Regions from separate parts of the Homo sapiens genome. Here all the other regions are linked to region 1. Evidence: fine-mapped expression QTL. A gene starts in region 1. Each other region holds a variant in brackets. All regions are shown on one strand. Distances are from middle to middle. Region 1 holds the start of TUBGCP4 (tubulin gamma complex component 4). Region 2 overlaps TGM5 (transglutaminase 5). Region 3 overlaps TP53BP1 (tumor protein p53 binding protein 1).

Region 1 (5,352 bases):
ATCATCATTACCAAGAGGAAATAAAATAATTCCAAGTTCCGATAAAAACTAGGGAGCCATTCTCTTGTGGACTTATCAAGAGGTAATATGAATACCAGAGGCTAAACTACATGTCAACAACCACATATTCTGCAATTTCCACTTACTCCTGAAATCCCTTTCCCACTCACTATTCCCAACCCTACTTCCCAACTTGGAATGGCAGTCTATCTTCCCATATGAATCTACTCCTCACCGCTCCTTTGAAAAGGTTTGAGCTTCTCCTTTGGGTTCATCTGCTCCTGTGGTCCCAGGTCTGGGCTTCTTGCCCTCTCTTTCTTGGGTACACCCCTGGGCTGGGGTTCCACTGACTCCTGCCGAACACTTAATAACTCTTGTGATGATTTCGGGGGTGTCATCTTCTCCAAGCGCACTTCCTGCCCCTTCACAGAGACTGTGACCTAGAAACAACCCCCGTTAATTGTCACTGCAAGATCATAATGAGGGGCATTCCCAGAGGAGAGTATTTAATACCCCAAAAGAGATCATCTTTCAGAGCCATGGCCAGGGTTGTAGGGGTGAGGGAGGTTAACGCGAACAAGGGTCTTATTCCATTGCCATTAGCTTAAAGCAGTTGAAACTCCAGAAGGAAACGATCAAAATAGTAAACCCACCTTCAGGCTGAAAAAAAAAAATCCCCTTTCTTCCCTATTAAGAAACTATAGGAAAAACTCATTATGACAGGGTAGGTGAAGGTACACCCAGGAAGCATCTCCAGACAAGCACTATCTGAAAAAGTTACCTATACCAGACCAGAAGTATAAGCCTCACCAAGGGAGACTGTGTCCCTCTTTAAGCCTGTCTATATCTTAATTTAGCCCTCCACCCAGTATCACACTTTTGAATTTGAATTCCCCCTCCCTTCTCACCGAAGATCTAGGTCTTCCAGGCTCTCTTTCTAAATCTTCCACGAGAGTCACTGCCTCCTCTCCATTTTCTGGACATTGTTCCTGTACCCAATTCTGGATCTCCCCAGGTAAGACGGTCAGGAACTGCTCTAGCACCAACAGTTCTACAATCTGCTCCTTGGTGCGCACCTCCGGCCTTAGCCACCGACAGCAAAGTTCCCAGAGTTGGCTGAAAGCCTCCCGCGGCCCAGCCACCTCCTGGTAATGGAATCTCCTGAAACGCTGTCGGAAGGTCTCAGAGTTAGTGCCATTCTCTCTTAGAGCTGATTTGGCCATCATTAATAGCAGAATGCAGCTTCCCTTCGCTTAGGAGTCTGGGTTCCAGGGCTTACATCTATCTTCCCATGTCCTTGGAGAATCCCCTGCAGATGACTGTAAGAGGTGTTTCTTCCTAGGGCAGAGAAAGATGGCACTATCAGAAGGAATACATTCATATGTCTAAAGTCTTGCCAGAGCTGGCCTGCCTTTCCATGTGCTCCGAGTGGCCTTCTAAGGTAGCACAATCTTCAGTAAATAGACTTTGCAAAAACTGCTTTTCTGGTTGACTTCCAGGGCAGCCCCAGGAAGCAGCAGAGAATAAAAGTACTGTCTGCCCCTCTCCCACCTCCTCCAAATCCGATCCCATTTAACTTCCCTGGCCAATGTTGCACAGTGAGTCCGAACCATATAGGAGAGCTGGAGTTCGAGAGGATCTAAAGACAAGTCACCATCCTGCTTGAAGGCAACAAAAAGCCTCTGTCCAGCTGGTCGCAGCTGATCTCCCCCAGTATCTCCGCAGTCCTTCCCGAGGCCTTCTGCGTCCGCCCCGCCCCCTCGGGCTGCACAACTCCCAAAGCCCACCCCAGGCAAAAATCACGTCCAGAATCTCGGGTCTTTGTTTTCCCCGCGTAGTAGTAGCCGCTCAGCAAGGATTAGGGAGCTACCTGTCGGAAAACCTCGCGCAAGGAGAGAAGCTGGTTTTGGCTCCAAAGCGAGGACCATGGGGGCTTGGGGAGAGTCACATTGGGCAGGAGAGACGGAATCCGAGGAGCAGTAGTAACGGGCTTCCTGAGGACGGGCTCGGGTGTCGGCCAGAGGCTCCAGGTGCTGCCGGTTCGCGGACGCAGAGCTCTCAGCCCAAGGAGCAGCGGCTGCGGGATTCTGGCCTCTTTTGTCTCCGCTCCCTCCGGCCGGGTAACCCGGAGCCGTCGTGCGGTCCCTCCAGAGGCCTCTGACCCGGCTAAGGCGCCCTGAGGGCGCCCTCCAGCCCACCCCTGGGAGCGTCTCCCTCTCGAGCTGCCCCTCAACCCCCTCGCATCCTTGCCTCCGGGCCAGCCTCACCCACTCGGGGTCCGACCCTGACCCCGGCCCCGGCCCCGGCCCCGGCCCCGGCTCTCCAGCCTCCCAAGTACAGCTCCCAAACCGGAAGTCCGAGCGGGCGGCTCGGGGCACCGAGGGCGCATGCGCGAGGGCAGCGACCGCGACTCAGTCTCCGCAGAGCCCGGGCGGGAGTAGCTGGTGGACCCCGTTGAGCTGCCGAACTTCCGGGACTCCCCCGCGACCCCTTCCCAGCTTCCCGTCCGCTCCGCCGCAGCGATTGTCTCGGTGGGTTGATTCGGCACAAACCGCCCGACCCAGGGGCCGGTGCGCGTGTGGAAGGGGAAGCACTCCCCTCGTGGTCGCCTGGAGGTGCGCTGGAGGAGGGGGTGACATAACCAGGGACTCGAGGTCCGCCGTGGGAATGATCCACGAACTGCTCTTGGCTCTGAGCGGGTACCCTGGGTCCATTTTCACCTGGAACAAGCGGAGTGGCCTGCAGGTACTGTCCGGCGCAGAGCGCGGGAACCAGGGAGCGCAGGAGGGGGGACCTGAGCCAGCGCCTGGGGGAGTAGGCTGAGGGACCTAGCGAGCGGGGCTTCCAGGGCTGGGGGCGTATCCCTGGACAGGTGACTGGAGGGCAGCCCCTTAGGGTCAAGGCTGATGCGACACCTAGAGAGGCCGGGCCTAGGCTAGAAAACGGAGGGCAGACCTCGAAGAGCCCCACCTGTGGCGGGGCGAGGAAAGGGCCTGAGGTCCAGGTGTCTGACAGTTGCTGGGGAATGATATAGAAGTGTGGGAGGCACTTTCTCCTATTTATTTTCACACGTGCATTGTTTGAGTTTTGAAGTACTGGGCCAAATACACAGCTCCCAAACACATGGTAAGCGCTCAGTAAAGTTTGTTGAAGGAAATAAATGAAATCGAGAGCGTGTGGTGTTTCCCTCATTACTCCTTTACCAGAAAATTTCTGCACTAGGTAAAGCACTTGGTAGGGGGCCTTTGTGTAACCAGGAATGTATGATGTTCCGTATGCATTATCTTATTTAATCCTCACAACCACCTTATCCATTTTACAGATTAAGCTAGGTTTAGAATAGTTAAATAACTATCGGGGTCATAGCTAGTAATTAACAGAGCTTAGTTTTGAAGCCAGGTCTGTCTGGCTTCAGTATTTGAACTACTTTTACCTGCTTCTGCTTCCAGTAATGTTATCTAATGCTCTCAATAATTTAGTCCACTTAGGTATTGTTTCTACCAGTTAACAAATGAGCAAACTGAAGCTCAGAAAACTTTATGCTGGCCAGTCCTAGTAGTGGCAAGACTGAAATCTAGGTCCGTCTGATCACCAAGACATGCCGATTCTTAGGAGACTGTGGAAGAGCAGAAAAAGTACATTCTTAGTCTATAAAACCTATAAATCAAACAGTTTCCTTTCGTTATTATTTATGAACATGTATTTGGAGTTTGGGAGTTTAGGTGAATTTTTGAAAAAAACAGGTGAAGATTTGTGTGGTGGAGTTTGAATTGTTATCTTTCACCTGTAGGTCTTTGAAGACTAATTCGATGTTTCACTTTTCTCCATAGATCTTAGTACAATGCCAGGCATATAGGAGGACAGTATTTAGGAAGTATGTGGGTGCCTGATGGTCCAAAATAAGAAGAGATAACACAGTACAGGAAAGATAGCTAGGGAGGGGGTGGGGGAGACAACCACAAGTAATTCATCTTTTCCCTTCCTTTCTTTCTTATGAAAAATTCTCAATCATGTATTTTCTACCATTTCATCCTCAAGGTCTCAGCTTTAAAGTCACTTTGTCAGAAAAACTTTCTCTGAGCACATCTTTAAGCATCCTCCCCTGATGCCATTATTCTCCATCAACTTGTTTATTTCCCTTGTAGGATTTGTCACAATTCATAATGTATTGTTGTTACCTGTTTTTAGCCTTTCTCCCGCATAGATTGCCCCTGGGAGCGAAGACCAGTGGTCTTCTTCATTCATCTACCCAGAGCACCTAGCACAGTTTCTGCCACATAGCAGGTGTTTAGGTATTGATGGAAGAAAAGAAGACAAAGATGGCAAATATTACATAATTTCTGCAGAGCAGTGTCTTTTACATTTGAGTAAAGGGAAAAGTTGTCATGAGTGCCAAGTGTTAATGAAAATTATTTTATTATATTGAATATGTATATACATAAGCTAGGTATAAACTCAAGCATAATACTCTTAAACAACTATAAAATCAAATATTTTTATAAATTAAAAGTAAACAAAACTACCAAATCAATAAGTTCAAATGACCATTATTCTAATGCAGGATTTCTCAGCCTGTTCCTATAACTGTGTTATATAGAATGGTATCAGTAACTTCGAGTTATTATTTGCTGTTTCAGAATAATTAGATATTGAACTTTTCGAAAACTCTGCCAACAAGAAACGCTCAAATGCCAATTTTAATAGTAGTATCACTTGATAACTGGTAGAGCTGTCTTGTTAATAATATAAAATTGCTTATGTGTATTGAGCACTAGCTATGTGGTTGGGATATGTGCTTTACACATGTATTAACTTATTTAATCCTCACAATTATTTTCTTCAGTTTATAGGTATGAAAACAGGCACAGACAGGTATAGTAACTTGCCTAAGCTTTCAAGCAAGTAAGAGGCAACTCAGGGATTCAAACCCAGGCAGTTGGGCTCCAGAGACCAGGTTCTTTTTTTTTTTTTTTTTTTCCGAGATGGAGTCTCGCTCTGTCGCCCAGGCTGGAGTGCAGTGGTGCAATCTCGGCTCACTGCAAGCTCCACCTCCTGGGTTCACGCCATTCTCCTGCCTCAGCCTCCCGAGCAGCTGGGACTACAGGCGCCTGCCGCCACACCCGGCTAATTTTTTTGTAGTTTTTTTAGTAAAGATGGGGTTTCACCGTGTTAGCCAGGATGGTCTCGATCTCCTGACCTCGTGATCCGCCCACCTCGGCCTCCCAAAGTGCTGGGATTACAGGCGTGAGCCACTGCGCCCGGCAAGAGACCAGGTTCTTAAGCACCGTGTTGTGCAACCTCTTAAGTTACTAACTTGAAGATGTGATTAGCATTGTGTCATTAAAATCTACA
Region 2 (5,000 bases), 120 kb before region 1:
AAGTCACTCAATCCCTTCAATAATCCTATGAGGTAGGTACCACTACTTTCCCCATTGTACATCTGAGGAAACTGAGGCACAAGTTAAATGACTTGCCCAAGGTTACTCAGCCAATTAATGGTAGTGCTGGTATGCAACCTCACGCATCTTGCCTCCAGAGTCCACAAGCTTCTCCACTACTCTAGGCTGTCAGGGTTTTAGCACAGTGCCTGGCACAAAGGAAGTCCCCAATAAACATTAGTTACTATGGCTATGAAATAATAACATATATATTTTCAAAAAACATGCTTTGGGAACTGTTTGAGGTTAAGGAGTTTGACTAAATCTTTAATTTTAACTTTGGTTGAAGACAGAAGCTGGGTCTTACCCATCTTGTATCCAAGAGCTCTTGGAACACAGTGAGTGCCTGGTGTAGAATAAGGACTCAGTAAGTATTGCTGTGAAGGGATGAGTTTTTCAAACTGCTGTATTTCTTAATTTATAACATGGTAGCTCTTTGGGGGAAGGTTAGTGCTGATTGAGCTACAGGGGACTGGGCCACGTTTGACCTACTTTGACCAACCCTTTGTTTTCCAGGCCACTAAAGGGCCATGATTCTCACAAACATGTTAATTGGTCTACTGTCATTGCATAATCTCCATTCACTGGCTCCACTTCTCTCATCACGCAGTTCCAGACAACCACACCCAAACCTGGCTCACTCCTTCTACACACACATACCTGGCCCATTAGATGCTAGGCTTTTCCACACACTGGAAGGTTCTCTCTCTATCTTATACAAGATCTAGTCTCTACCTGTCAGTCTTGTGCTTGCTTCCTGAAGGACTCAGTCCTCTCACTTCACCCAAATATTCATGACATGGAGTCTCAAAGCTGTGGAATTCCTTGTTTCTTATACCTGGGCACTCAACTCATCCAACTCAACTCATCCAACTCAAGAGCTGGCTCTGCAGCTGCAGAGGAGTAATCTTGGGGCTTACTGATCATTCTCATCAACTGTGCAAAGTCACTCTCTCTCGGTGGCAACACCTCCTCGTGCCCTTGGACAGATGCCTGGGGCTCTCTGAGCTTCCTTCAGGGAAGTTGCATTCTTCCAACAGCCCAGAGATGGGCCTGGCACATATATGCACACGAAATGCAACAAACTTTGTCACACACAAAATTCTACCCAGAAGGCCTGAGCCCCCAATAAACACCAAGCTATGGGCAGATCTGGTATTCTTGGATTCCCCTAAAGAATCCTGTGAGCGAAAACCTTGCTTGGCTTCTCTCCCCAGCTTAACACAATAAATAACCTTCTGATCGCCACCCAAATCAGAATGCGCAAGCCAAGAGGCCGAGAGCAGGCCTGGGTGTGGGGCAGGGTGAGGGTGAGGACCCGGAGCAAGTGCTTGGCCCTGGGTGAGGCAGAAGGCCTCCTCCTTTCACCTCCATGTGTGACTCATTTCCAAGTATCACTCCCCTCATGATTTCCTCCTCATCTCCTCCTCTTGTCACCCACAAACCAACTTCCATTTGCCATCTTTTCCACATATGTATTTTTTAGTTTTTCCTCTACTAATGTAGTATCCATTCCTTATCTGAAAAGCTGACCTCACATTTTCTTCCTTCCCCTAACCCTCTGGCCAGAGTCAGGCTATCAGGCCCTCAACAACTCCAAATTCAAGGTCATTTCCCTTGGGTTGCCATCTTGCTCTGGCCCCATGGCCCACACCACAGCCCTGACTCACGTTTCCCTTCCATGTACACATCTTCATTGAGCCCATTCTCTGTGCTCAGAAAGGACACTAATCAGTTTGTAGTTTCCTAATTACTCAGCCTCTCATCTCATTTCTGTCTTGAACCTAGACAGTTCCCAGCCAAGCTCTTAGGAATATGCTGGTAAGTTGCCTAAGCTTAGACGAAGCAAGGGTGTCAGGCGTCCTGGGACGTGTGACTGTCACTTCGGAACCATGGTCTGACATAAGCCCAGACATGTGCAGTCTGAGGTCCGTGATGAGACACTTTATTTTTTTATTTATTTTTTGAGATGGAGTCTCACTCTTGTCACCCAGACTGGAGTGCAGTGGCGTGATCTTGGCTCATTGCAACCTCTGCCCCCCCGGGTTCAAGCAATTCTCCTGCCTCAGCCTCCCGAGTAGCTGGGATTACAGGTGCCTGCCACCGTGCCCTGCTAATTTTTGTATTTTTAGTAGAGACGGGGTTTCACCATCTTGGCCAGGCTGGTCTTGAACTCCTGACCTTGGGATCCACCCACCTCGGGCTCCCAAAGTGCTGGGATTACAGGTGTGAGCCACCGTGCCCGGCCGAGACATTTCAGAGAGGAAAAGGGCTTCCTTCCAAATGTCCCTTGGTGGGAACTGTGTGGGACTGGGATGGGAATGGTTCAGAAGGCTCATACATGAGCGGCTATACTTCTGACCTTTTTGTGGGGTCCTTTCTACCTCCTACCTGTGCACATGACGGCAGCAAAGACCCAGCATTGCCCGTAGCGCACGGGCTGGCAGCCTGTGGCGTTCCACTGCTTCAGGATGGCCACGCTGCCCGTCCACTCCGCAGGGTTGGCGCCGTCTGTGTAATTCTCACTCCAGTTTCCATTGAGCACCCCATTATCATCATTGCTGTTGATCTGAAGAGAAGCCATATAGAGAAGTGTTAGAAACATCCATTTCCTCAACATGCCATGTGTGGGCTGCCTTGGAAGACCCATGGGCCTGAGAAACAGAGGAGAGACTTTTGACAGCATTTTACTGTGGACTTCCAGACCTGCTGGGGAGGGCTAAGGATGGGGGTTGACTCTTCTGACTTCTGCTCCACTGTGAATTAGTTTATTATTATGTTCCTATCTACCCCTTACCCATGTCCTCCCATCCCCTGCAAAGCTGGAGCTTACCTCTGAGAGCTTTAAAAAACACTTCAGAAAAGAGGAAATTTAGAAACAACAAGACCATTTCCCAAACTGGAGCTACACTCACCCTTTCTCAAAACATGCAATTTGGAATTAATAGAGGTGATGACCCACACCCAGCTATTTCAGAGCTCGGCTGAGAAAACTTGTCACCCACATTCTGG[C/T]GTCAGTCTCATCCAAGATGGCTTTGCCAGAGGGTCCCTCTTTCACCCACTGCAGGGGGCAACTGTGAGTGGGCAGGGCTCCCGCTGCACAGCTTCCTCCCTCCCCGGGCACGCCAGGGACCTCACCATGGCACACACCACTCTGCTGACGTAGACGGGGCTTCCCCGCAGAGCACAGTCTGTGGCTGGGTCAGTCTGGAAGTGCAGGCTCTTGTCTAGCAGCTTCAGGCAGATGTCTATGATTTTGTCTTCAAACTTCGGGGGGAGAGGCAGAGAGGGAAGGCACCCATGCTTGTCACGTGGGAGTATGTAAAAAGTAATGACTTCCCCCCAACCCTAGTGGAATATAAACTCACTTGGAAGGTAACTGTGTCAAACAGAACAGCCATGAATTCCCTCCCATTCAGGTGTGGGGTTTCAAAACTCTAGGGTCACAATTCACCTGGTGCATATGCCCTGCACACCAAATCCCTCCCCTTCACTCCGAGATGACTATTGCTACTCCTGGGTTGTTTGGGTTTTTTCCCCAGTGAGTCTGACTGATTGAAAAGGCTCCTCCTCTCCTCTCAGTTCCCACACTCCTAGAGCACCAGGGGGTGTTCCTGCCAAAACCACATTGCCCCTGCTTCCACACTCACCTGCTGACCCAGCTTAGCATTGGCAGCTACTGCTGAAGTGAGGGTGCCAACCTGCCATGGCACCTGTGATTCACTGGGGCTCTAGGCTGACTAATTGCATGTGAATTATGAAAATTTCCCACCCAAGGCAGGCTGGCTCCTCCTGGTCCTTCAGACTTGGTGTGAATGCCACTCCCTCTGAGGCCTTCCCCGAGCCTGAGCCTGCTTTAGCGCCACAGCCCTGGGTATGTGCCCTCTCCGCGTGAGACTCAGTTACGTGATGTAGTCAAGTCTGTCTTTTCCTGCCTGAGTCTCGGGGCTGTTTCAGTCCAGCTCTCTTCACAACTCTGGACCTTAGGCCTGGCATGGTGCCCAGCACATTGCAGGAACTCTGTACCTCTTTGTAGAATGAGTGTAAATGAATACATTTATTCCTGTGTAACACTGGGCAACATGCAGAATTAGGAGGCTTCTCTGATCAATCTTCCCCAGAGGACAGTCTGATCAGCTCACTTTTCTGTTTTCAAATTTTCAAAGGCCTCCTACAGCCTAGAGAATCAAAGCTCTGACCTCCTTCAGAAGGCACATAAGTTCCTCCCAGATCTGGCCCCAACCTACCTCTCCAGCCTCAAGTATCAATAATTGCCCTCCGCCCCCATCCCTACCATTTTTTCTCCAGCAACACCAAATGTCTGCAGCGGGCCAAACCGTTTCCCACCCTCGTGTCTTTGCTCACACCTTCCCTCTGTCTGGGATGTTTTTCCCACTATCCTTCACTTGGCTAACTCAATTCAAACATCTCCTCTCCCAGGAAGCTTCTATGATACTCCCATGCCCAACCAAGAGCTCTTCCCCTTGGCTCTCAGAACACTCTGCCCCTGTCTCTCAATCTTTACATATTCATGATAAGTGACCTGTTTATGTGTCTGAGTCCGCATTACACTGTAAGATCAGGGACAATGTTGTATTCATTTTCATATCTCTAGCACTTAGCACCCTGCCTGGCACTGAGCAGGCGATCAATATATATTTAATGAAGAAGAAAGACAGAAATGGGCCAGGCGCGATGGCACACACCTGTAATCCCAACACTTTGGGAGGCCGAGACGGGAGGATCATTTGAGCCCAGGAGTTTGAGACCAGCCTGGGCAATATAGTGAGACCTCGTCTCTGCAAAAAATAAAAAAATTAGCCAGGTGTGGTGGGGCATGCCTGTAGTCCCAGCTACTCAGGAGGCTGAGGTGGGAGGATCACTTGAGTCCAGGAGGTCAAGGCTGCAATGAGCCATGATCTCACCACTGCCTTCCAGCC
Region 3 (5,000 bases), 80 kb after region 1:
GAAAAAGAAATGGTCTTTAGAAATAAAGGATTAAAGTACATATGCTCAGCTAAAGAAACTGTAAAGAGGGGCCAGGTACCATGGCTCATGCCTGTAATCCCAACACTTTGGGAGACGAAGGCGGATGGATCACTTGAGGTCAGAAGTTCGAGACCAGCCTGGCCAAAATAATGAAACCCTGTCTCCACTAAAAATACAAAAATTAGCTGGGTGTAGTGGCAGGTGCCTGTAATCCCAGCTACTCAGGAGGCTGAGGCAGGAGAACTGCTTGAACCTGGGAGGCAGAGGTTGCAGTAAGCCAAGATGGTGCCACCGCACTACAGCCTGGATGACAGAGCGAGACCGTGCCTCAAAAAAACAAAACAAAACAAAACAAAAACAAACCTGTAAACAGTATGGATGAAGAATCTCAACATTACATCTAACTGACAGACATCCACCATAGTTACAGAAAAGAGAAATGGGTCAGGTAGATAAGCATTCATTCTGTGGTAGCCCCTTATAAAGCAAGTTGTTCTAATAAAGAACTTAGAAGAGATACAGAAACTTAAAAAACACCTTGCAAAGCCTCATATATTCCAGACTTCTGAAAATGTGCATGAAATCTTTAAGCAGACCTTTCTATGTGACATACTATATTACGCAAATGCAATATGCAAGCATTAATCGCTGAAAATATATCCCTGTAACAAGGTTTCCTTTGCACAGTATTACATAAAACTTATGGAAAGTAATTTTAGCACCATTTATCTAACTGCATTACTATAACCTAATGGAAAATTCAGACTTTTACAGGCCCTAGGGACAGCACTGCCACTACTCTCCTCAGGTCTCCAATGCCTCATTCCTGGATTATTACCATAGCCTATCAATCACTTCCTCTGCCTAAAGTCTCCCACTCTCCCTAACCCCCATTCTTTCTGCACACTTTCTGCAGCCTTCCTAGAAAACATGGCTTTGTTAGCTCCTGGTCAAAAAACTTCAAGGTTTTCACTAGAAGACAAATTCCCAACTCTATAGTCAGCATTCAACTAACTAGTAGCAGCCTATATCTCCAGTTTTTCTTTAATTATTCACGTTCATAAAGCTTCTATTCAATGTCCTCCAAAGGTTTCCCATTTCTATGCTTTTGTTCCCTCATCTGGAAAACACCACACATCTACTCAAACTATTGCCAAATCCTTAAAAATACATTTGCTGGTATATTTTATCCTTTTAAACTTACGGAATTTTCCACATATTCCATTATTTCTCTAACATTTAGCAATCCTACATTCTTTAAATTATCAAATCCCTTCTTGTTTTTCCAGATAATCATGGGCTATCATGTTGTAGGTCAGCATACCAAACAATAATGAAGGATATGAATGAGGAAACAAAAGGAAACTCAATACTAATTTTGAAACCACCTGAGTGGGAGTATGTGTCCTTTAAGGACTTTAGAGAATAACTCCAAAGCAATATTTAAAACTCTAAATGTTAAGAAGGTCTCTCCTAACTTTCTGTTATAGTTTTAAACCCATTTTTCTTCTTTGTTCTTAAAAGAACTGGTTACCCCTAAGAATTTATTAAAAGCCATCTAGTTAAAAATGTAAGAATTTATATATCCGGCGATATCATGCATGAAGTCTACCCCAAAAGTCTGCCTCTGATATTAATAGCCAATTAAGATGGCATTCTATCAAGTAAGCAAATAAAGGTTATAGCTAGAGCCTAAAACACATCTAGATCCCCTGATCATTATTAACTATTACAGACTATTACTTATGGATTTAAAGACTTACTGAACTCCTTACAGTTTTTCACATCATCAACCCACCAAATATTTGTTCTGTGTTGAACAAGATTGGGCTTCCAAGTACCATCTTGCTTTTTTACAGGTTTAACAGGAGCTCTCCATAGACAGATACTTGAAGAGGTCTCCAAACTGTTAACAGTGACAAGTTATCTATAAATGGAGACATTTAAAGTAATTCTCTCTCTCCCTCTCTGTACTCACTCTCTCTTTTCCTTCCAACTCCCTCTCTCCCCACACCCTCCCCACTCAGAATCTCTACTTTGTATTGTTTGAATGTTTTTCAAAATTAAGCATGCATTATTTATTTACTTATTTATT[T/G]GAGACAGGGTCTCGCCCTGTTGCGCAGGCTAAAGTGCAGTGGTGCAATCTCAGCTTACTACAACCTCCGCCTCCCGAGTTCAAGTGATTCTCAAGCCTCAGCCTCCTAAGTAACTGGAATTACGCGTGCACGCCACCATGCCTGGCCAAGCATGTATCTTTTTTTAAAATCAATAAATCTATTAACAACAAAAAAGTGCTCTTCTAATAGTAGATGAACAAATGCAAAACTCACCCAATTCACACCTTTCATTCTGTCTTTTCAGACTGAAGAACCATTACTTTTTTTCTTTTTTTTTTTAATTATTATACTTTAAGTTTTAGGGTACATGTGCACAATGTGCAGGTTAGTCACACACGTATACATGTGCCATGCTGGTGTGCTGCACCCATCAACTCGTCATTTAGCATTAGGTATATCTCTCAATGTTATCCCTCCCCCGTCCCCCCACCCCACAACAGTCCCCAGAGTGTGATGTTCCCCTTCCTGTGTCCATGTGTTCTCATTGTTCTATTCCCATCTATGAGTGAGAACATGCGGTGTTTGGTTTTTTGTCCTTGCGATAGTTTACTGAGAATGATGATTTCCAATTTCATCCATGTCCCTACAAAGGACACGAACTCATCATTTTTTATGGCTGCATAGTATTCCATGGTGTATATGTGCCACATTTTCTTAATCCAGTCTATCATTGTTGGACATTTGGGATGGTTCCAAGTCTTTGCTATTGTGAATAGTGCCGCAATAAACATACGTCTGCATGTGTTTTTATAGCAGCATGATTTATAGTCCTTTGGGTATATACCCAGTAATGGGATGGCTGGGTCAAATGGTATTTCTAGTTCTAGATCCCTGAGGAATCGCCACAGTGACTTCCACAATGGTTGAACTAGTTTACAGTCCCACCAACAGTGTAAAAGTGAAGAACCATTACTTTTTAGATTACTATCATTTAAATTTGGCCAGGCCCAGTGGCTCATACCTGTAATCCCGGCACTTTGAGAGGCCAAGGCAGGTGGATTACTTGAGGCCAGGACTTCGAGACCAGCCTGGCCAACATGGCAAAACCCTGTCTCTACTAAAAATACAAAAATTAGCCAGGCATGGTGACATGTGCCTATAATTCCAGCTACTCAGGAGGCTGAGGCACAAGAATCACTTGAACCTGGGAGGCGGAGGTTGCAGTGAGCCGAGATCATGTCACTGCACTCCAGCCTGGGCGACAGAGCAAGACTCTGTTCCAAAAAAATAAAAATAAAATTAGTCTCTCAACATTTAGCAACTAAACAACTATATTTTTAAGTACAAAATAATATTTTTCTGTTCTTTTTGCAACGCTCTTCTGAATGATTTATTTTATACAATTTTCTAAGTTAAAAACTATTGTTCTCGGCTGAGCACGGTGGCTCATACCTGTAATCCTGGCACTCTGGGAGGCCAAGGTGGGTGGATTGCCTGAATCCAAGAGTTCGAGATCAGCCTGGGCAACATGGCAAAACCCTGTCTCTACAAAAAATCAGCCAAGCATGCTGGTACACGCCTGTAGTCCCGGCTTCTCGGGGCGGGGGGCTGAAGTGGGAGGATCACCTGAGCCCGGGAGGTCAAGGCTGCAGTGAACATTGATGGTGCCACTGCACTCCAGCCTGGGCGACAGAGTGAGACCCTGGCTCAAAAACAAACAAAAAAAAAGACAAAAAGCTATTATTCTCCCTTCATGTTCTAATTTGTAGTTAAAATTATTTTTATTTAACTTCTCCTCATAAATACTATTTTCCAACCACTGTCTTCATTACTTTTTGTTGTTTGCCCAAGAACTAAAATCATGAAATAAACACGAAATCACTAGCATTTTCAATAATCTGGATATTAATGTTAATAAAATAATAAGTTTTACTACGGCAAAAAAAGCTGACTCTGCCAATTAACAATGTAAACAAGAATTCATGAAGAATACTATTAAAATAATAGAATATCTCACTGTTTTAGAAGCTTCTTTTGCATTTAATTTAAAAGTACTCCAGGCCGGGCGCGGTGGCTCACGCCTGTAATCCCAGCACTTTGGGAGGCCGAGGCGGGCGGATCACGAGGTCAGGAGATCGAGACCATCCTGGCTAACACGGTGAAACCCCGTCTCTACTAAAAATACAAAAAATTAGCCGGACGTGGTGGTGGGCGCCTGTAATCCCAGCTACTCGGGAGGCTGACGCAGGAGAATGGCATGAACCCAAGAGGCGGAGCTTGCAGTGAGCCGGGATAGCGCCACTGCAGTCCAGCTTGGGCGAAAAAGTGAGACTCCGTCTCAAAAAAAAAAAAAAAAAAAAAAAAAGTACTCCAAAATAACTATATTAAAACAATCAAAGAGACCTGATATTTTGTTGGCACAGGTCATTAGCAGTATTTAAACATAATACAATTAGAAAAATACTCTACTACAGAATTTTAGGTTATTCACATTGTTCTTCACTACAGCTCTTCAGAATCAAATAATCTGTATTAAGCAGTTTTACAGGAAGAAAAAGCACAGCTGGGATCAGGAGACCTAGGTTCTAGTCTCACCTCTATCATTAACTAGCCAAAAGACGTTAAGAAGAGACTAAATCCAATAACCCCTCACTTCCTTTTTAGCTCTAACATTTCTTATTCTTAAGATAAAAAAAAAGTGCTAAATATAAAAGCTAATAAATAGGGACTTTTTTTTTTTTTGAGGCGGAGTCTCATTCTGTCACCTAAGCTGGAGTGCAGTGATACAATCTCGGCTTCTCGTGCCTCAGCCTCCAGAGTAGCTGGGACTACAGGCACCCGTCATCATTCCAGGCTAATTTTTGTATTTTTAGTAGAGATGAGGTTTCATCATGTTGGCAAGGCTGGTCTCGAACTCCTGAT

The links. PIP is the estimated chance that this variant, and not a neighbour inherited with it, causes the effect. A credible set is the group of variants that fine-mapping cannot tell apart.
Region 2: its variant is the best candidate, but not a certain one, in a credible set for the expression of TUBGCP4 in whole blood (TOPMed, PIP 0.57).
Region 3: its variant is the best candidate, but not a certain one, in a credible set for the expression of TUBGCP4 in whole blood (INTERVAL, PIP 0.72).

The regions. Positions count from the first base shown.
Region 1 is chr15:43,368,688-43,374,039 of GRCh38, forward strand. It overlaps TUBGCP4 (tubulin gamma complex component 4), which reads left to right and starts at 2,414. Exons shown (of 18, transcript NM_014444.5): 1 at 2,414-2,745. The coding sequence starts at 2,668. It overlaps ZSCAN29 (zinc finger and SCAN domain containing 29), which reads right to left and starts at 2,356. Exons shown (of 6, transcript NM_001372080.1): 1 at 1,871-2,356; 2 at 909-1,338; 3 at 236-440. The coding sequence starts at 1,226. RefSeq lists a silencer at 2,055-2,324 and an enhancer at 2,425-2,544.
Region 2 is chr15:43,250,308-43,255,307 of GRCh38, forward strand. TGM5 (transglutaminase 5) reads right to left here. Exons shown (of 13, transcript NM_201631.4): 5 at 3,199-3,327; 6 at 2,452-2,629. Among named protein-coding and RNA genes, the nearest start is that of TGM5, 14 kb to the right of the region's middle. The variant C/T (reference allele first, on the strand shown) is at 3,073.
Region 3 is chr15:43,448,776-43,453,775 of GRCh38, forward strand. All of the region lies in intron 12 of TP53BP1 (tumor protein p53 binding protein 1), which reads right to left. Among named protein-coding and RNA genes, the nearest start is that of TP53BP1, 42 kb to the right of the region's middle. The variant T/G (reference allele first, on the strand shown) is at 2,117.